Linked DNA regions of Homo sapiens: region 1 is linked to region 2. The links come from fine-mapping of genetic effects on plasma protein levels. A gene starts in region 2. The other region holds a variant in brackets. All regions are shown on one strand. Distances are from middle to middle.

Region 1 (10,077 bases), 14 kb before region 2:
TGAGCCGAGATCGAGCCACTGCACTCCAGCCTGGGTGACACAGCAAGACTTTGTCTCAAAAACAAAATAGAAATAAATAAATAGATAAATAAAACCTAAAAATTAACTGGGCAGGGTGGTGGCACCTGTAGTCCCAGTTACTCGGGAGGCTGAGGTGGGAGAATCACTTGAGGAGGTTGAGGCTGCAGTGAGCCGTGATCTCGCCACTGCACTCAGGCGTGAGCAACAGAGTAGACCCTGTCTCAAAAATAAAAGTTGATTTAAAAAGTGAAAATAAGGTCCCTGCCACCTCCTTCTTTGTGCACAGGCTTATACCAGTCAGTTCATCTCTCTGGTGATGTTTGGTTTGATGATGTCTGAAGACCGAATTTCACTACAAAACAGGAGGCAAGAGATCATCCGTGGCTTGAGATCTTTACCTGGTATGTTCTAGAATTCAGCTTTCCATGTTTTCAGATCTAGTGGACTGTTGCTGGCCATTCTCTGTTGACTCTCACCTGTACAGGATGTTGTTCATTTCTTCTTCCTCCTAAAACTTCCTAGCTTCCCCAACTCCCTCCTGGAGGCCTTGCTGCCTCTGACCTCATCCTGCTCGGCCCCCACCTCCCCCTGCGCTGCCGCGCTGCCTCCCTGCCTCCCTGCCTCCCTGCCTCCCCGCCTCCCTGGTCCTCAGCCTCCCTGCCTCCCTGGTCCTCAGCCTCCCTGCCTCCCTGGTCCTCAGCCTCCCCGCCTCCCTGCCTCCCTGGTCCTCAGCCTCCCTGCCTCCCTGGTCCTCAGCCTCCCCGCCTCCCTGCCTCCCTGCCCCTCAGCCTCCCCACCTCCCCGCCTCCCTGCCTCCCTGCCCCTCAGCCTCCCCACCTCCCTGCCTCCCTGGTCCTCAGCCTCCCTGCCTCCCTGGTCCTCAGCAGTGCTCAGTGCTTTCTCACCGCAGGGCCTTCGCACTGGCTCTTTACTCTGCTGAACCATCTTCTTCCTGCTCTGCATACAGCCGACAGCTTCTCATCTCCCAAACCTCAGCTCAAATGTCACCTCCTGAGACCCTCCCTGGCCATGCTCACAGAGGCCCCGACGCCAGCACTCTGTGAAACATTAGCCTGTTTATTTTTTTCATAACACACCTCATGACCTGAAATTCCCTGTTCACCTGTTGACTGGCCTGTCTCCCCCAACTAACATGTCGGCTCCGTGAACACACAGCTCTGTCTGCCAGAGCTGCCACTGGACAGCTGGTGTCCAGCACAGGGCAGGCATACAGTAGGTGCTCAGTAAGTACTCGAGAAAGAGCAAATGGCCCCAGGTCCTTCCTATGCCAGGCGCTCCTTGGCAGCCCCACCACACTTTCCCCGTTTGCTGGGCAGCAGCAGTCGCAGCTGTCGTAGCTGGTGAGATACAATATCTGTTGCACTAAATCATGACCTCCTTGGGGACCGTGGCCTCCCCTTTCTTCATTCATCCACCACATATATTAAGAACCAGTGCCGTGCCCTGTCCCATGTGCTATCCCTGGCCTGCCAAGATAAGCAGCAGCTCACCTCCTTCAGTCACTCACATGCCAGAGTAGGAGAGAGACTTCTGTGCAGGCCTGAGAGGCGGAGATGAATCGAGCCTCGCCCCAGGCTGGCATGGAACGCTCACTGCGGACAGGACATCATGGGGCTTCTGGGGAGTGCCCTCCCAGAGACAGAGTGGACGCTGGAGCTTCCCTGGGAGCCAGGGCCAAACCCCAGAGCAGGCAGTTGGGGAAGGGCCATCATAGAGAATGGTCAATTCCAGGCCCTCGGGGCCTGACACTGGCCGAGACAGCTTGCTGAAAGTTTATTTCTGAGAAAAGCATTCTTCCTTTAAGCCAGGTCATAACCATGCAAAACAGGACCCAATTCTGACGTCTAAGTCAGTGGTTCTCCAGATGTGGTCCACAGGTCCTGGGTGTCTGCAAAGCCCTTTGAACAAAATTGTTCACATAGTAATACATTCTTTATACTAAAAATTTTTTTTTTTTTTTTTTTTTTTTTTTTTTTTGCCTGTGTCCACATTTGCAAAGGCAGTGGTGGCTGTGCCCGGCACCCAGCACACTAGAAGGCCTACTGGTCATTGTGTCCTTCACCAGCACACACCCAGTTTCCCTTAAGAATGGCCTTGATGGCCGGGCGCGGTGGCTCACGCCTGTAATCCCAGCACTTTGGGAGGCTGAAGTGGGCGGATCACCTGCGGTCAGGAGTTCGAGACCATCCTGGTCAACATGGTGAAACCCCATCTCTACTAAAAACACAAAAAGCAGCTGGATGTGGTGGCAGGTGCCTGTAATCCCAGCTACTCGGGAGGCTGAGGCAGGAAAATCACTTGAACCCAGGAGGCAGAGGTTGCAGTGAGCCAAGATTCTGCCACTGCACTCCAGCCTGGGCAACAGAGTGAGACTCCATCTCAAAAAACAAAAAAGAATGGCCTTGATGGTGAGGCGCAGTGGCTCACGCCTGTAATCTCAGTACTTTGGGAGGCCGAGGTGGGCAGATCGCCTGAGGTCAGGAGTTCGAGACCAGCCTGGCCAACATGGTGAAACCCCATCTCTACTAAAAATACAAAAATTAGCTGGGCGTGCTAGTGGGTGCCTGTAATCCCAGCTACTTGGGAGGCTGAGGCAGGAGAATTGCTTGAACCCAGGAGGCGGAGATTGCAGTGAGCCGAGATTGTGCCATTGTACTCCAGCCTGGGCGACAAGAGCGAGACTTCATCTCAAAAAGAAAAGGCTGGGCACGGTGGCTCATGCCTGTCATCCTAGCACTTTGGGAGGTCGAGGCAGGCAGATCATGAGGTCAGGAGATCGAGACCATCCTGGCTAACATGGTGAAACCCCGTCTCTACTAAAAATACAAAAAATTAGCCGGGCGTGGTGGTGGGCACCTGTAGTCCCAGCTACTCGGGGGGCTGAGGCAGAAGAATGGCGTGAACCTGGGAGGCAGAGTTTGCAGTGAGCCGAGATCGCACCACTGCACTCCAGCCTGGGTGACAGAGTGATACTCCATCTCAAAAAAAAAAAAGGAATGGCCTTGATGAGGTGGTAAAAATTATTAGTCTGTAAATTGCAACTCTTTGTAATATCCTTTATGATGAAATGGGGAGTACACGTAGCGCCTTTCTACTGGGGCCAGGCGTGGTGGCTCATGCCTGTAATCCCAGCACTTTGGGAGGCCAAGGCGAGCGGATCACCTGAGGTCAGGAGTTCGAGACCAGCCTGACCAACGCAGTGAAACCCCATCTCTACTAAAAATAGCTGGGTGTGGTGGTGTGCGCCTTTAATCCCAGCTACTTGGGAGGCTGAGTCAGGAGAATCACTTGAACCTGGGAAGCAGAGGTTGCAATGAGCTGAGATCACGCCGTTGCACTCCAGTCTGGGCAACAAGAGCAAAACTCCGTCTGGAAAAAGAGAAAAAGCCTTTCTGCTCTACACTGAAGTGTGATGCTTGTCTCAAGAGAAGCAGCCATCCCATTGAGTAGCAAGCTGATTTTGGTGTTTGTTAGACATTTTCTCAAAATGAAAAATCAGCTGACGCATCAGTAGAAGCAACCCATGGTATTTGTTGCCAATGATAAACTTTAAGCTCCCAGGCAAAACTTTTGAGTGTTAGAAAACACCTCTGTTACCATGAGCTTGACCAGTTCCTAACATTTAAAGACTTCTCTAGGGCCGGGCACGGTGGCTGATGCCTGTAATCCCAGCACTTTGGGAGGCCGAGGTGGGTGGATCATGAGGTCAGGAGTTCAAGACCAGCCTATCCAAGATGGTGAAACCCCATCTCTACTAAAAATATTTAAAAAATTTAGCTGGGTGCAGTGGCAGGCACCTGTAATCCCAGCTACTCAGGAGGCTGAGGCAGGAGAATCACTTGAACCCGGGTGGCCGAGGTTACAGTGAGCCGAGATCGTGCCACTGCACCCCAGGTTGGGTGACAGAGTGAGACTCTGTCTCAAAAAAAAAAAAAAGTCTTCTCTGATGAGATCAAGGTGACTTCAACAAGGTGATTTTTAAAGAACATTTTATAATAAAAGTGTCCATTTTAAGAAGATTTACATACCTTTGTGGCCAGTTCACGATGTCACAGAGTTATGCACTTGTAAATGATCCATTTAAAAGCACAAGACAGAAAAATAAATTTTAACCTAACAAAGTAGAAAAAGTTTATTGATAGGATTTCAGATTCTATATTGGCACCTACCCTTTCAAGAACCTACTGTTTCTCAAGTTTGATGTACTGTGGTGTCAAAGAACAATATTCACAATTATTTGTAAAATAATTTAAATACTCCTCGCTTTTCCAACTACAAATCTGTATTTGTAGGCTGAATTTTATTTTTATACTTCAACCAAAAGAGCTTATCACCACAGATTGAATGTGAAAGCAGATATTAGAGTCAACAGTCTTTTATTAAAAAGGCAGACACTAAAAAGATTTGCAAGAACAAAAAGCAGTGCCATTCTTCTCACTAATTCTTGTTGGAAATGAAGTAATGTAATAGATTTAGTGTTGTTATTTTAAAGTGAATATTTTTAAATTTCTCATTGTTAGTTTCTTTCTTTCTTTTTCTTCTTTTTTTTTTTTCGAGATGGAGTCTCGCTCTGTTGCCCAGGCTGGAGTGCCGTGGTGCCATCTCAGCTCACTGCAAGCTCCGCCTCCCAGGTTCACGCCACTCTCCTGCCTCAGCCTCCCGAGTAGCTGGGACTACAGGCGCCCGCCACCATGCCCGGCTAATTTTTTGTATTTTTAGTAGATACCAGGTCTCACCATGTTAGCCAGGATGGTCTCGATCTCCTGACCTCGTGATCCGCCTGCCCCAGCCTTCCAAAGTGCTGGGATTACAGGCGTGAGCCACCGCACCCAACCACGCCCGGCTAATTTTTTGTATTTTTAGTAGAGACGGGGTTTTACCATGTTAGCCAGGATGGTCTCGATCTCCTGACCTCATGATCCACCCGCCTCGGCCTCCCAAAGTGCGGCGATTACAGGCGTGAGCCACCACGCCTGGTCCTCAGTGTTATTTTCTAATCTGGTAAATGTTGACAGATTTAACTCAAAAACAAAGGCTCTTGGGGATGTGCAATAATTTGAGGGACTTGCAATAATTTTCAAGAGTGTAAAGGAGTCCTGAGACCAAAGGGTTTGAGAACCGGTGGTCCCACTTACAGGGGCCTTGTCTTGAGACACAGCAGGAAAGAGGGGTGTTAACTGGTGGTGTCAGCTCTGTCTCCAGTGGGTGATTTTTGCCTCTCTGAGCCTCAGTTGTCTTACCTGCAAAACGGAGTGAGAAATGGTACTTCCTACCTTGTTGGTGCTCAAGAAAGTGTTCACACAACACGAATCCCCATCCTAACAGAATCCTGGCCAGGAGCCCAAGTTATTTCCTGTAATCTACGTTTGAAACGAATGCGAGGAAGCAAAGTGTGCTAAGTGATGCGGTTTCAAAAGCTCCTCTTAAACCCCAGCATTTGTCTTCATGAATATTGCTTTAAAGTCGGCCTGACTGGTTTTCTCCCTCTGCTCCGTGC[A/G]TGGCCCAGAGCTGATCAAGGAAGTGCTGTCTCTGGAGGAGAAGATCCACGACTTGGCCCTGGAGCTCTACACGCAGAGATCGCTGCTGGTGATGGGGCGGGGCTACAACTATGCCACCTGCCTGGAAGGAGCCCTGGTGAGCCCCCACCCCCAGCCCCCACCCCCACGGAGGACAGGCACAGGAGACCCTGAGGAGCCAGCGGGAAGGAGGGCAGGGCGTTGGGCTTGGGGAGGGCCGGGCCTAAGGACCCCTTGGCCAGTCCTGTGAGCCTGCGCTGAGCACCAGCTCTCCACCAGGTTTCTAGCCCTGGGCACACAGAGATGGGTGAGGCAGGTGCCTGCCCCCAGGGATCTCCCAATCTACTGAGGAGAAAGGGACAGGGCGCCTGGGGTGTGCCCCTCCGGCTGTCCAGGCACTGCCAGGGTCCACTTGGAACAGCTCACTCAGACCTCATGAGCTGCTTCTGAGAGGTTGGCGGTTGCTATTCACCCTCATTCAGGAGGAAACAAAGCCTCTGAAAGCTTAAGTATCTCACTCAAGATGACGTAGGGGACCCGAATCAGACCTGAGTCCATGGGGCCTTCGCTTTTTTCCACCAAAATTGAGGGGTGGGTTCTCCGCAGAGTTTCCTTGTTACCCCTCAAACTTCCAAGGGGAGTTTGAGATCCTGCAGGAATTAACTTCGAAGGCCTTGCTTTTTCAAAAATTGGTGACAGGCCATTTGCCCCCTGCAGCATTAAAGATCCACGCCAGGAAAGAGAAAGCTGATGGGGCAGGGACAGGGTGCCAGGGCCACAGGGCTGCCCAGAGGGTGGGCAGAGAGCCGTGCAGGGTCCTGCATCTCGGACTTGCCCTTTCCTCGCTGTCAGCATGCCATGCACGGAGCAGATGCTCAGCCCAGGTGACGGGGACAGTGCTCCAGCTGAGGCTGCACTGGCCACCAAGACGAGGGCATTAACCGTGGCCCAGCTGGGCTGCCATCCTCTCCCATCTCCTCCCCACCACCCCCATTTGAAAGACAATGCTAGGCTGGCACAGTGGTCCACGCCTGTAATCCCAGCACTTTGGGAGGCCAAGGCAGTCAGATCATTTGAGGTCAGGAGTTCGAGACCAGCCTGGACAACATGGTAAAAGCCCATCTCTACCAAAAATTCAAAAACTAGCTGGGCGTGGTGGTGCACGCCTGTAATCCCAGCTACATGGGAGGCTGAGGCAGGAGAATCGCTTGAATCCAAGAGGAGGAGGTTGCAGTGAGCCAAGATCATGCCACTGCACTCCAGCCTGGGAGACAGAACGAGACTCCCATCTCAACGAAAAAAAAAAAAAAGAAAGAAAGAAAAAAAAAAGAAAGACAATGCCAGTTACAAGTGGTTACCGGAAACATTCAGAGTTGATTTCCTTGGTCTTGGTGGGGAGTGCAGGGCTGTCCTCACTGAGCTCCATCTCCTGCACCTGCCCCCTGGAGATTCTGACTCCTGTTAAAGAACAGGCAGGTGCTGCTTCTTGGAGTGCAGTAGAGGCAAGGCCTGGGGTGCACTGTCAGTCCCCAGATGACTCTGCGTCATGGGTGGGGGCTGAGCTGCGGTGGCTGAACGTGCTGGCGGGAGATGCACATTGCAGCTATGCCTCCGCATGAGTCTGCTGAAGGAAGAAGCGTTTAGGTGGCTGCTGGCACGAGCCCATGGTCCTCTGGTCACTGGGAGGCCGGCACTGCAGCTGTCTGCGCCTCCAGACTGGAGCCGCACTCCTTACAGTGTGGCCCTGACCTAAATCAGCAGTGCTAGCGGGGAGTCGAGAGATGATTTATTTGACTGTCTCACCATTTCAATGACGTGGATTTGTGGTAACTGAATAGAGATGGATCTACCTGAACACAGGAAAAAAATTAATTCAAATAACACCCCAGTTTGTGTGATTTTGCTTGGAACCACTCTTTAGAAGTTATTAATGGGCAAATGCTTAATCAGATAATTAACTGAAGGTGTAGCTAAGCTGAATACGATGCTGTCGTTATACACGTGGCTGGCTAGGGAGGAGCAGGGGGTGAGCTAGGCTGACTCCGACTTGTTTGTCCTAAGGGGTGGCTGTGCGTGGGACTGGAGAGAGACAACAGCAGTGCCCGGGGCTGGTGTGGGGACACAGAGGTTGTGTCCCGGGCTGGTGCATGCTCTGGATGGTAGCCAGGCCTCTCCCCAGGCCCTTGCTGGGTGTCCTCAGTGCTGTCAAGCACTCCAGGCATCTGTCTGCCTTGCAACCCTTGGCTCTCTGCCTTCCAGAGTCATCCTTCCCCTGGTTCCCCTTCTTCCCCTCTGGCTGATCTGCTCCAGCCCCATCTGCCCAGTGTGACTCTGATCTCACCTCCTGTTTCCAGAAAATTAAAGAGATAACCTACATGCACTCAGAAGGCATCCTGGCTGGGGAGCTGAAGCACGGGCCCCTGGCACTGATTGACAAGCAGATGCCCGTCATCATGGTCATTATGAAGGATCCTTGCTTCGCCAAATGCCAGAACGCCCTGCAGCAAGTCACGGCCCGCCAGGTGAGGGCTCTCCACTGGACTGGGCCAGCTCTCTCCTGCTTTTCCCCATGCATGCCCACCTCACCACTGTCTGCCAGTACCAGTGATGGATGGTCTGGCCAGTGAGTGGCTGTGACCACACACCCTCCCCCGGGCCGCCTGTGGGGAGTGCACACACTTGGAAAGGAGCTGGTCAGCCCGCAGCTGTCCCACACAGCTCTTTGGTGGGGCCCAGGGACCCACACTGCTGTGAGCAGCACCAGATCCTAGCCTGGAGCTCAGGGGAGGTACTCCTGGTGGACATCCCTGGGGCAGGGTTTCCCCAGGTTCTGCGGCCAAGCAGCTCCGATGGGAACTACCTGGAGTTAGGTCAGGTCTCATAGGGCAGGGGCACAGCTTTCCATAAGACTGCCCTCGATTCAGGCACCTGTTGCAAGCCAGGGGTCCACCCACACATCTGAGCAACTGACTATGAATCCAAGGATTCCCACTCTCCCCTGAAGTTCAGTAATTTTCTAGAACGACCCATAGAACTCAGGAGATGACTATATGATTACAGTTTTATTATAAAAGATATAAATCACAGCCAACCCAAAAGAAGAGACCCCTAGTTTGAGGGCCCCAGATGTGAAGCTTGTGTCCTCAGGATGTGTCACCCTCCCAGCACGTCACTGTGTGTCGCCCGGGAGCTCCCCTGAGCTGCTAGCTCCAGTGTCCAGAGTTTGTATTGTGGTTTTATTAAGTAGGCAGGATGGAGTGAACCATTGGCCATGTGATCAAACTCAGTCGCCAGCCCCACTTTTGTCCTTGGAGGTTGGGAGGTCAGACTGACAGGCTCATGTCTCAAAGCCCCAACCTTCTAATCATGTGGCTGGCCTTTCTAGCAGGGCCAGACGCCATCCTGGAACTATCTACAGGCCCACCACGAGTCGTCACCTTAGCATAAAGTTAGGTATAGTCCAAGGGACCTCCCATAAATAACAAAGATGCTTTTGTCACATGGGAAAGTCCAGAAGCCAGGAGCTCCCTTCCTGGAACCGGCCACAAAGACCAACCAAATGCTTTGTACACAGCAGCTGCCCTGAGGTAGGAGGGCAGAGTTCATGAAGTTTCGGGGAGGTGAAATCCAATGAGGTGCCCCATCCAGATGTTGCCACCTGGCTCAGCACAGAGGTCAGAGTGAGGGTATAAAACACAATGGCATCATTTCCCCACTTAAAACCCTCCCATACCTGCCTGTCAAGCCACAGAGACCCACAGTCCTGCGTTATCTGGCCCTTTCCTCCTGTTTCAGTGAGTTCCAGGCACTCCAGCTTTCCTTCTGCGTCCCACTCTCATTGCGCCCGCGCCCGCCTCCGGGCCTTTGCGCTGGCCGCTCCTGCTGTCTGGAATGCCCTTCCCACAGAATGCTCCGCCGAGGGTTGTCCCCTCATCATTTAGGGTTCAGTCCAGATGTCTCCTGTTTTTGAGAGAGCTTTGGAGACCTCACCAGTCTCCCAATGACATTATCCTGTTTTCTAGCCTTGGTGGCATTTCTTTGGAATTCATTTTTTTTTTTTTTTTGTGACGGAGTCTGGCTCTGTCGCCCAGGCTGGAGTGCAGTGGCGCCATCTCGGCTCACTGCAAGCTCCGCCTCCCAGGTTCACGCCATTCTCCTGCCTCAGCCTCCCCAGTAGCTGGGACTACAGGCCCCCGCCACCACACCCGGCTAATTTTTTGTATTTTTTAGTAGAGACAGGGTTTCACCATGTTAGCCAGGATGGTCTCGATCTCCTGACCTCGTGATCCACCCGCCTCAGCCTCCCAAAGTGTTGGGATTACAGGCGTGAGCCACCACGCCCGGCCTGGAATTCATCTTTATTTCTTGGTTTGCTTGTCTAGGTTTTTGTTTTCTACCACTAGACTATGAGCCCCGCTAGAGTTAGGAGTGAGTCTGCCCCGCTCTCGGCAAGGCACAAATGGGTGCCAAATGATGCAGCAGGATGGCAATCTCCTTACCAGGGAAGGGGAAGAAACCC
Region 2 (9,994 bases):
CGCTGGGATTACAGGCGTGAGCTGCCATACCGGCCTGGGCTCCTGTTTTCTGTATCTGTGTCTTCCTTCTTCTGAGTTTCCTTTTTTGTTCTGGTGAAGCCCATTCTTGAGAAAAGGTGCTTGAGAGGTGTCTTAAGTCAGTTCAGCCTGCTGTAACAGCCCTGGTGCCTTATAAAAATCCCACATTTCTTTCTCACAGTTCTCAACAGTGGGAAGTCCAAGATCAAGGCACCGGCAGATGTGGAGTCTTGGTGAGGGCCCATTTCCTGGTTTGTACAGAGCAGCCTTCTTGCTGTGTCCTCACATGGCAGAAGGGACAAGGGAGTTCTCTGGAGCCTCTTTGATAAGTGTACTAATCCCATTCATAAGGGCTCCACCCTCACACTCATCACCTCCCAAAGGCCTCACCTCCTAATAACATCACATGTGGCAGGGGTTAGGATTGCAACATATGAATTTGGGGAAACACAAATATTCAGGCCACAACAGAAGGCAAGTTTTTTGAGAATCTGCAGGTGTGGAAATGATTTTTTTATTTATACTTGATAGAGGGTTTAGCTAAACACACAATTCTAGGTCAGAAAAAGGTGTTCCTGCAGAATTTTAAAGGTAGTGCTTCATCGTCTTGTTCCCAGTGCTGCTATTGAGTCCAAAGTCTGATGTCTTTGTAGGTGACCTTTTGGTCTCTTTTTTGTTTCCTGTGTTCTGAAATACCACAAGTTGCCTAGAGCACATTTCATTTAGGGTTGATTGCATCTGGTAACTTTTGCCTTTCAGACTAGGAAATTTTCTTGAATTATTTTGTTGTGGATTTCTCTGTTTCTCTGTCTCTGGAGTGTCTATTATTCCCAGGGTGAAGCTGCTGGACTGGCCTCTAATTTCTTATCTTTTTTATCATTCATTTGTTGTCTTTTTGCCCTACTGAGAGATTTCAATTTTATCTCCCAACCTGCTACTAAGATTTTTCATTTCTGCCAACATGATTTAATTTTTCGAGGGTTTTTTTTTGCTCTGACTATATATATATATATATATATTTTTTTTTTTTTTTTTTTGAGATAGAGTCTCACTTCGTCACCAGGCTGGAATGCAGTGGCGTGATCTCGGCTCACTGCAAGCTCCACCTCCCGGGTTCACACCATTCTCCTGCCTCAGCCTCCTGAGTAGCTGGGACTATAGGTGCCCGCCACCACACCCGGCTAATTTTTTTTGGTATTTTTAGTAGAGATGGGGTTTCACCGTGTTAGCCAGGATGGCCTCGATCTCCTGACCTCGTGATCCGCCCACCTCGCCCTCCGAAAGTGCTGGGATTACAGGTGCGAGCCACTGTGCCCGGCCACAAACTTTTCTATTCTTCCCCATTTATTATTTCTATTAGAATGAACCATAGATATTTATTTTATATTTTGAGTCATGCCCAATACTATGTTAGTTTGTTGTTCCAATGGTTCCAGCAACAGCCACTGGGGGCTCTTTCAGTTGGCTCTTGTGTCTCTTTGACATAGCCCCATCTGTGTGTGTGTGTGTGTGTGTGTGTGTGGTAAGTACTTCCGTGTGTGTGTGTGGGGGGGTACTTCCGTGTGTGTACTTCCTTACGTGTGTGTTGTACTTCCTTGTGTGTGTGTGTGTGTGTGTGTGTGGTAAGTACTTCCGTGTGTGTGTGGGGGGGGGGGTAAGTACTTCCGTGTGTGTACTTTCTTACGTGTGTGTTGTACTTCCTTGTGTGTGTGTGTGTGTGTGTGTGTGTGTTGTAAGTACTTCCTTACCTGCACAACAATATTCTCCAGGCTCGTCTTGTCCATCCCCTGTCCCAGCCCTAGAATCAACCATTTCTCCAGGGATCCCTGGTTCCTTTTATGGCGAATGACATTAGAGAACAAGATCTGGGCTCTGGGTGTGTCAGCCACTGCTGAGATGTCATTGCTTCTAGGCCATCTCAGCTGACAGAGCAAGGCCATGTTGCATACACCTGTGCTGCATAATTTTTAAATGGCTGGTTCTTGTTTGAAGGATGCAATATTTTTTCATTCTCTCTGAAGCTAGCAGTAGTTTTATTTTTATTTTTTGAATTTTCCTTCTCCACAGAGTCTGTTTCTTTCAAGATGCAGTTTTTTGTCTTACTTTTCTTAGCCATATGACATGGAGCTGTCTGTTCAGATTCAAGGGGGGCTGACTGGAAGGTCTAAGGCATGGTAGGGCTGGTTGATGCAGGATTCACTGCTGGGAAATCTGGTGGGGGTGGGGGTGTCATAATGTTCATACCTCAGGTCTTCCCTTCAGGGCTGGTCAGACTTCTGGAGAACAGCTTGCTGGCTCCCTGCCTGAGGACAGTCCCAGCTGCTGGTGCTCTGGGGGATTCCCGGAGGAGGAGGGCTAAGGGCCACTGGGTTCAGCATTCAGTTATACAGCCCCCAAATAACCCTGTTTCCATACAGTGCCACACCCTCAGCTGCGCCCCAGCTCAGATGCCCTCATTCTAATCATCACCATGGAAGAAACTTCCAGACTTCTGCCTTTCCCAATTCTGCCCTTCCCTGCCATGTCCTCACATGAGCCTGTCTGCCCAGCATGGCTGACTAGTTCCAGAATGGAAGCCCTGTCTGGGGGACCATCAGAGTCCATTGTTGTGGGTTTTCAAACTCCATTTGGGCCTGCAGTGGCCTCCATGGCCCTAGAGTTTCCAGACCAGCTCTGCCCCTACCTCCCCTGGGTATGATGTTACAGGCACCTCCCAGTAAACGTCCCCATTGGTTTAAGTGCAGTTTAGTTTTCTACAACACACAGCTGGGACAGCCCCGACTTACACCCTCTAGCACATCTCTGGGTCCTTGTAGGGGAGAAGGGAAGATGTGGGTTAGTGCAATGGGGGGAGGGCAGGCAAAGTGTTGAGGGGACAGAGGCAGTCAGCATAAGGACCTACACCATCCCTGCTGCATGGGCCGCACCCAGCTCTTCCTGCTTCTGTCCTTCTCCATGCCACTTCCTACAGAACCAAGGCAGACAGAAGTGAATCCCTTGCCCAGAGGAGCACAGCTGACAAGAGTCGGATTGGAATCCAGGCCAGTCAAGGGTGGGGGATATCAGGATCACAGAAACCCGTTGGCACTGTGGCTGCATACACAGCTGGCCTCCGGACAGGTCCCCAATGCCCCAGGCACCCCTAGCTCCTCCACCCCGCTGTGCTCTTGTCTTAGTCTGTTTCTTATTCTGTTGCTTATAACAGAATACCTGAAACTGGGTAATTTACTTTAAAAAAGAATTTATTTGTTACAGCCCTGGGGGCTGAGAAGTCCAAGGTTGAGGGGCTGCACCTGGTGAGGGCCTTCTTGCTGCTGGGGACTCTGCAGAGTCCTGAGGGTGGCGCAGGTGTCACATGGCCAGGGGGCGGAGCATATTCACAGGCCAGCTCAGGTCTTCCTTCCTCTTCTAATGAAGTCACCAGTCCCACTCCGGTGATAACCCTTTAATCCATGAATCCATCGACAGGTTAATCCCAACCACGCTTAGAGGCCCCACCTCTCAGTACTGCCACATTGGAGATTAAGTTTGAACATGAGTTTCATTGAGGATAAACATCCAAAACAGCTCATCCCAAATCTAAATGTTTCTTAAATCAACTAATCAATTAAAAAAAGAAAACCTCTCTGGGCTGAACAAGGCGTATCAGTGAGCTAAAGCCAGCCTACATGCCTGGCAGTGCCAATCTACCTCAAGGTCCTCAGAACTCTCCAGTCCCCTCACCTTTCCCTAAGACCAGGTGACTTGTGGCTCCCTGAACACAGCAAGCAGGTCCTCACATCTGAGCATGTGGGCCTGAGCGCCCTTTCTGCCTAAGTCACAGGCCCAACACATCCTGCTCGGCAGCCTCAGCAACAACTTCCTCCTGCCCAGAAGGCCTTCCTCAATTGCTTCTCCCCACCATAGGCCGGATCAGGTGAGACGTGCTCACGTGTCACACCTGGTTCACGTATGTCGTGGCAGGATCTTTTCACTTGGAGGGTTCAACCAGGATTCTTGGTGCTGTTCCAAGGCCCCCCTCCCCACCCTGTCACCTCAGCTTTGTGTCCATAAATGTTCACTGTATTTCATAAACCAGAAAAAAAGCAGTGTCTCTGCAATAAAAAGAACTCTTACAGAAAACTTAGTGTGAGATATGTATAGCTGTGTACATATGTACACTGATTTTTGGTTACTCACTTGACATGATGTGAGTGCTATGAAGTTAGGCCTGGAGTGCTGGGAACTGGTGTCCCCTCTGTTTTTTTGTTTTTATTTTTTTGAGATGCAGTTTTTGCTCTGTTGCCCAGGCTGGAGTGCAGTGGAGCAATCTCGGCTCACTGCAACCTCTGCCTCGTGGATTCAAGTTATTCTCCTGCCTTGGTTTCCTGAATAGCTGGAATTACAAGCACCCATCACCACGCCCAGCTAATGTTTGTATTTCTAATAGAGATGACGTTTCACCATGTTGGCCAGGCTGGTCTCGAACTCCTGGCCTCAGGTGATCCACTCACCTCGGCGTCCCAAAGTACTGGGATTACAGGTGTGAGCCACCGCACCGCCTTCCTAATGAGAAGCACCCATCAGTGCTCCTTGGTGGAACCTCAGATCTGACAGCTAGGCTTTTACTCTTTTCCCATAATCCTCGATCCTGACAATTTCTGGTTTCCTGTTCTCTCTCATGCACTTGAGGCAGGTGGCAGGTGAGTCTGAGGTAGCGACAGGTGTGGGCCCTCCTCAATGCAGGCCACACTGTGACGTAGAATTTCAAGCAGCGATGAGCCATGCTCAAATTTAGAAAACTCCCTCTGGTGGCCAAGGGGGACACCATGCTGGATCCGTTCCTCTACCCCACCCCTCCTCTGAGGCTCTGGTGCCTCCAAGCGGCCTGGCCCAGACCTCAGTGCCCTTGGAACCTGGGTCACAGGCTAGCTGCCCTCCCCAAATTCTGCAACCACCCTTCACGCCACCCAGCCCCTTACCCTCCCCATCTGCAGAGTCCTGTTCCTTCTCCCCACTCTGGCCCTGGCCACTCTGTGGATCCTGGTATTGTGTTACTGCTGTTCTACACCACACTCACCATTTGTCAACCATTGTTCCCACTCTTCTAGTCCCCAAAGGCCGGCTCTCCACGGTTTTCCCCATGTGCCCAGCCTCAGTGCCTCTCTTCCTGCTTCACTTTTCAACGTAGATCTGGCAACATCCCAAGCCCCGGCCTCTCCCATCCTGTACGACCCCCAGGCCGCTGGTACCTGATCCAGCCTCAAAAGCAGCTCAGAGTCAACGGGTCCCAGTCCCTAGGGGGCTCTGAGCAAGAGACTCCTCGCCCCGCCCCCCACTCCTCTCAGAGGCTTGACTGAGCACCTCCCTTTTTTTTTTTTTTTTTTTTTTTTTTTTTTTTTTTTTTTTTGAGAGAGTCTCACTCTGTCACCCAGGCTGGAGTGCAATGGCGCAATCCCGGCTCACTGCAACCTCCGCCTCCCAGGTTTAAGTGATTCTCCTGCCTCAGCCTCCCGAGTAGCTGGGATTACAGGCGCCCGCCACCACGCCCAGCTCATTGCTTCGTATTTTTAATAGAGACGGGGTTTCACCAGGTTAGCCAGGCTGGTCTCGAACTCCTCACCTCAGGTAGTCCACCCGCCACGACCTCCCAAAGTTCTAGGATTACAGGCGTGAGCCACCGCGCCCTGCCGCACCTCCTAATTTTTAGATGTTGTCAACTAAGTGATCCCGCCACCAAGCGCAGTCTCCTCCTGCGTCACCGACCCACCGGGTCACCTGTCTACACACCGCCATCTCTTCGCACCCCCTCCCCCTCTTCGACCCGGCTTCTGGCCTCACCCACACCCCCATAGACCCGTTCCTCCGGCGCCGCAGCGAGCAACCGAGTGCGAGGCCCGCCCCGCCTACCGGGCCCTAGCACGCCGGGCTCCCGGACGCCAGGCCGGCCTCCCCCCGCGATCGCCCCGGGCTCTCCCCGAAACGGGCGGGCTCCCGTGCCGCTCCAGTCGCCTCACCGCCACAAGCCTGCACCTGCAGCCCGAGGCCCGGCTCCCCGCGGACCCCGCGGTGTGAGCCCCGCGCGCCTCCAGCCCGGTTCCCGGTCCTCCGGGCCACCCTCTCCACCGAGCTGCGCCCCCCTCGCAGGGAGAGCGGGCTCAGCCGGTGGGCCGCGCAATGCCTGCGTCTCCAGCTCACCGCGTGCACTGCGCGCACCCGAGCGCCATGGCCACTCGGCCCGCGCCACTGAAAGGCCCGGGGGCGAAGAACCCGCGGAACCCCGGCCCAGGACCTCGGGCGCCCGACCCGGCCCCCGACCCCGCCCGCGCCACCCTCCATCGGCCCGCCCCCCAGGCGCCATTGGCCGCGCCTGCTCCGCTCTCCGCGCGCTGATTGGTCGGCGCGAGGGTCTGTCAGACCGGGCGCCGCGGCGGCGGCAGCGGCGGAGAAGGGAGCGGGACCGGAAGGGTCGCAGCGCCCCGGCGCCCCTCACACCCACTGCGGCGGCGGCGGCGGCGGCGGCGGCGGGGCGGAGCGGAGCGGGGCGGGCCGGCGGCGGAGCCGGGGCCGCGGAGCCAGGAGTGACTAGCACGCAGCGCCGCCAGTCCGCCCGCCCGCCCTCTCCCCGTGGCGCGGCGGCGGGGAGGCGAGGTGAGCCCGGCGGGCGGGCTAGGCCTGGCGGCGGCTGCTCGGGCCGGGCCCGCGGGGAGGGGCGGTGAGGGAACCGCGCGGCCGGGGGCTTCGGGGCGGGCCGGGGGCTGCGGGGCCCTGGCAGCCGCAGCCGTCGCCCCTGTGCTGGGGGATGCCGCAGGCGCCCCCTTCCGCCCGGCTGTCAGCAGCCCCGGGCTGCGGGCCTGCTCACCGGCCTGGCCCGGCCGACCTGCCCGTGGGGTCTGCGGGCGCCATCCCTCCCGGAGGTGGGGCAGACAGCTGCACTCCTGCGCCGGGTGCCCAGGGGCCCGGGGTCGCGTCCCCGCGACCTTGGCCAAGGCACTGACCCTCGCTCTGCCGCGGTTTTGCCTTCGGGAAGGTGGGGAAATGTCTCTTCTGGACAGGGTTGTTGTCAGGCTGTGTGAATGTATGCAGACGCCTGGGCAGGACCCCGGTGTGCATCTGTGGAAGACTGGGCAGGGTGCTGGCCCGTGCTGGTGTGAGTGGTGTAGGAACCCCCTCCCCACCCGCCCAGCCTCCCGCCTCCCCGCGCACTCCTCTCTTGCCTTGTCATTGCACACTCGGTGTCCAGCAGTGCCAGAGGGGACCCAGCCCGAATCCCTTACCACCGCGCCCCTCCCCCAGAAGACTGCTGCCCCGTCCCACTCATCTCGCCCGCCTTGAACATGCCAGCCCGCATTTGCCCCAGGACCTTTGCATTTGCTGTTTCCCCGTCTTTGGAGTTGTCTCCGTGATCTTGGCACAAGTAGCTCTTTCTGCTCCTTCCTCTGGTCAGATGTCTCGTTTTGGGTGAGGCCCTCCTCGACCACCCTCTTTCTTCCCTTAGTCATGCTATTTCATTATTTAAAAAATTTCCTTCCTAGCTCTCATCTGGTTTGAAACTATTCTATTTATTTGCCTGCTTATTTTCTGTCTCCCCGACTAGGATGTAACTTTGTGAAAACAGGTAGCTGTCTGATTTGTCCACTGCTTTATCCCCAGTGCTTAGAAAGCACACAGGAAGTATTCAGTAGTATCAGCTCAATGAATGAATGAATGATCAAAGAAATGGCCCAGCCTGCCTGTTGTCTCTGCTTTATCTGTTCATTTAGTGACTTCTGATTAGCGTGTGAAACTTGTAAGCAGATGGAAGCTTGTTCTATTTTGTGAAACATTTTGGTGTCCTTGACCCCTTTAATTGCTAACTGTTGGAACAAGCTGTGATATAAAATCTCACATTTTTATAATAGTTTAGCTGTAGCTTTCTTCCACACATACAAGAGACATTTACTGAATTCTGCATTATCTAGGTCATGCTTTCTGCTAGACCCTACGGACACAAGGCAGATAGCAACGGGGTCCCTTTCCCGAGAGAGCCCAGGAGCCCAGTAGAGAAGGCAGGCATGCAGACACTTAGTTCCAGGACTGTACAACCCTTGCTATAGGGGAGGGGCTATGCCATGGAAATGTGGAGGAGGTGACAGGTGGTGCTGGGGGGCCTTGAGGGTGATAAGAAATTTGCTAGGCAGGGAGAGGCACAGAGGTGTGAAGGAGCAGGGCCAAGGAAGGACCGTAGGCCACTGTGGAGTTGAGAATCAGTCTGGAGGGCCAGGTGTAAGGACACAGAGTCGTGGGGACCCTAAAGAACAGGAACCTTACCCAGCAGTTTTCTAGAAGAAGGTGGAATTTGGCTGGGTGCCATGGCTCACGCCAGTAATTTCAAGACACTTTGGGAGGCTGATGTGGGAGGATCACTTCAGGCCAGGAGTTCAAGACCAGCCTGGGCAACGTAGCGAGATCTGTCTCTACAAAAAATTTTAAGAAATTAGCTAGGTGTGGTGGCATCCACCTGTAGTCCTAGCTGCTTGGGAGGCTGAGGTGGAAGGATCCCATGAGCCCAGGATTTGGAGCCTGCAGTGAGCTATGATCACACCACTGTGCTCCAGCCTGGGTGACAGAGCAAGACCCTGTCTCTAAAAAGGAAGGCAGCACTCCACATTTGTTCTGATTTTTAAATGTTGGCAATAGCTAATTAAATTTTTTTTTAATGCTGTGAGCCAAGCCAAATACAGATTCATTCAGCTTGGTTGCAGGATCGTCATCCTCCAGGACTGGCTGTGTGGGAGGGAGGAGCTGTGAGGAGAGCAGGAAAGGTAGCCTAAGGCCAGGGGAGCCAGGCCCTGTTTGCCCAGGTGCCAGCCCAGATACTCATTTGATTGTAACTGGAGCCCTGTGGAAACGGAAGCTCAGGAGTCTAAGTAGTCTGTTTCTTAGCAAGCAGCTGGTGAGTGGAGTTCGAACCCAGATCACTTCCCAGATAAGGATTCTTTCCTGGGTCCCTCAGCTCTGAGTATTCTCTTTTGGCTTTTAACTTGTTCTGGAAGAATGACCACCAATCTATTTAATGTTTTCCTCCATTTAACTTTTTTTTTTCTTCAAAAGGATCCTGCAGAGTTAAAAACAATACTATTTTTGCATAGACTTCTCTTTTGACAGCTTTGATTTTCCTGGCAATTTAATTTTCAGGGTGCCAGGACTTTAATTTGTTCACAGATTAAAATCTGTTTATTTGGTCCCGTAAATAAACAACAGAGGGGATACTTGAATGTGTCTAAGATAAAATATTCTTAATTTTCTGGATAAAGAAAAGGACCAGACAAACCAGTTAATAGCGAGTAAACCAGTTGTTTTCATGAGGCATAAGATAAAACAGAGACCAGATTTTTTTTCTTCTTGAGACTATTGATTTGCCAATAGGGCAACTATTTTTGGTCTACATACATACAGTAGTTACACCTCACACTTGGTTAGGAAGGTGCCATTTTTACATAATTTTCCTTCAGAATAATTAATTCCTGATACTTTGTACTTGATTGTATGAACCAGTTTCAACATCATTCTTTTTATTTTAACTTTTATTATGGGAACTTTCAAACATATACAAAATAAACAGAATAGTGTCCTGCTTTAACAGTTATTAACTCCTGACCAATCTTGTTTCATCTCTAATGGTATCCACTTGCACCCTTACCACCCATAATTATTTTCAAGCAAATCCTAAATATCATGTCATTTCATTCATTATTTTTTGGGATACTAATTACACAGTGGGTGCCCAGTAAATGTTTGGTAAAGACAAAGCTAAATGGGAGAATAAATGTGGTAGGGTAGCTCGGAGCAGTGGGTAAGATCAGGACTTTGAGTCAGACTCCCAGTGGGTCTGCTGCTTATCTGGGTGATGTGCAGAAGCGATTGCACTCATCTGTAAAACATACGGGCACAACCTCAGGGTGCTCAGGAGGTGTACAGTAGTTATACTTCACACTTCGGTAGGTCTCTAAAGGTA

What was found. PIP is the posterior inclusion probability: the model's chance that the variant is causal. The UK Biobank Pharma Proteomics Project read protein levels with antibody pairs (Olink). The fine-mapping took linkage between variants from a reference panel, not from the people measured, so its PIPs are less certain.
Region 1: its variant is fine-mapped to the plasma level of the MAPK9 protein (UK Biobank, PIP 0.90).

The regions. Positions count from the first base shown.
Region 1 is chr5:180,302,775-180,312,851 of GRCh38, reverse strand. GFPT2 (glutamine-fructose-6-phosphate transaminase 2) reads left to right here. Exons shown (of 19, transcript NM_005110.4): 15 at 308-422; 16 at 5,549-5,676; 17 at 7,913-8,080. Among named protein-coding and RNA genes, the nearest start is that of MAPK9, 16 kb to the right of the region's middle. RefSeq lists enhancers at 5,913-6,426, 6,427-6,941. The variant A/G (reference allele first, on the strand shown) is at 5,540.
Region 2 is chr5:180,288,502-180,298,495 of GRCh38, reverse strand. MAPK9 (mitogen-activated protein kinase 9) reads left to right here and starts at 6,413. Exons shown (of 12, transcript NM_002752.5): 1 at 6,413-6,648. LOC124901151 (a long non-coding RNA gene) reads right to left here and starts at 6,264. Exons shown (of 2, transcript XR_007059085.1): 1 at 6,196-6,264; 2 at 3,243-3,525. RefSeq lists an enhancer at 5,293-5,935 and silencers at 5,858-6,197, 6,208-6,577, 6,708-6,897.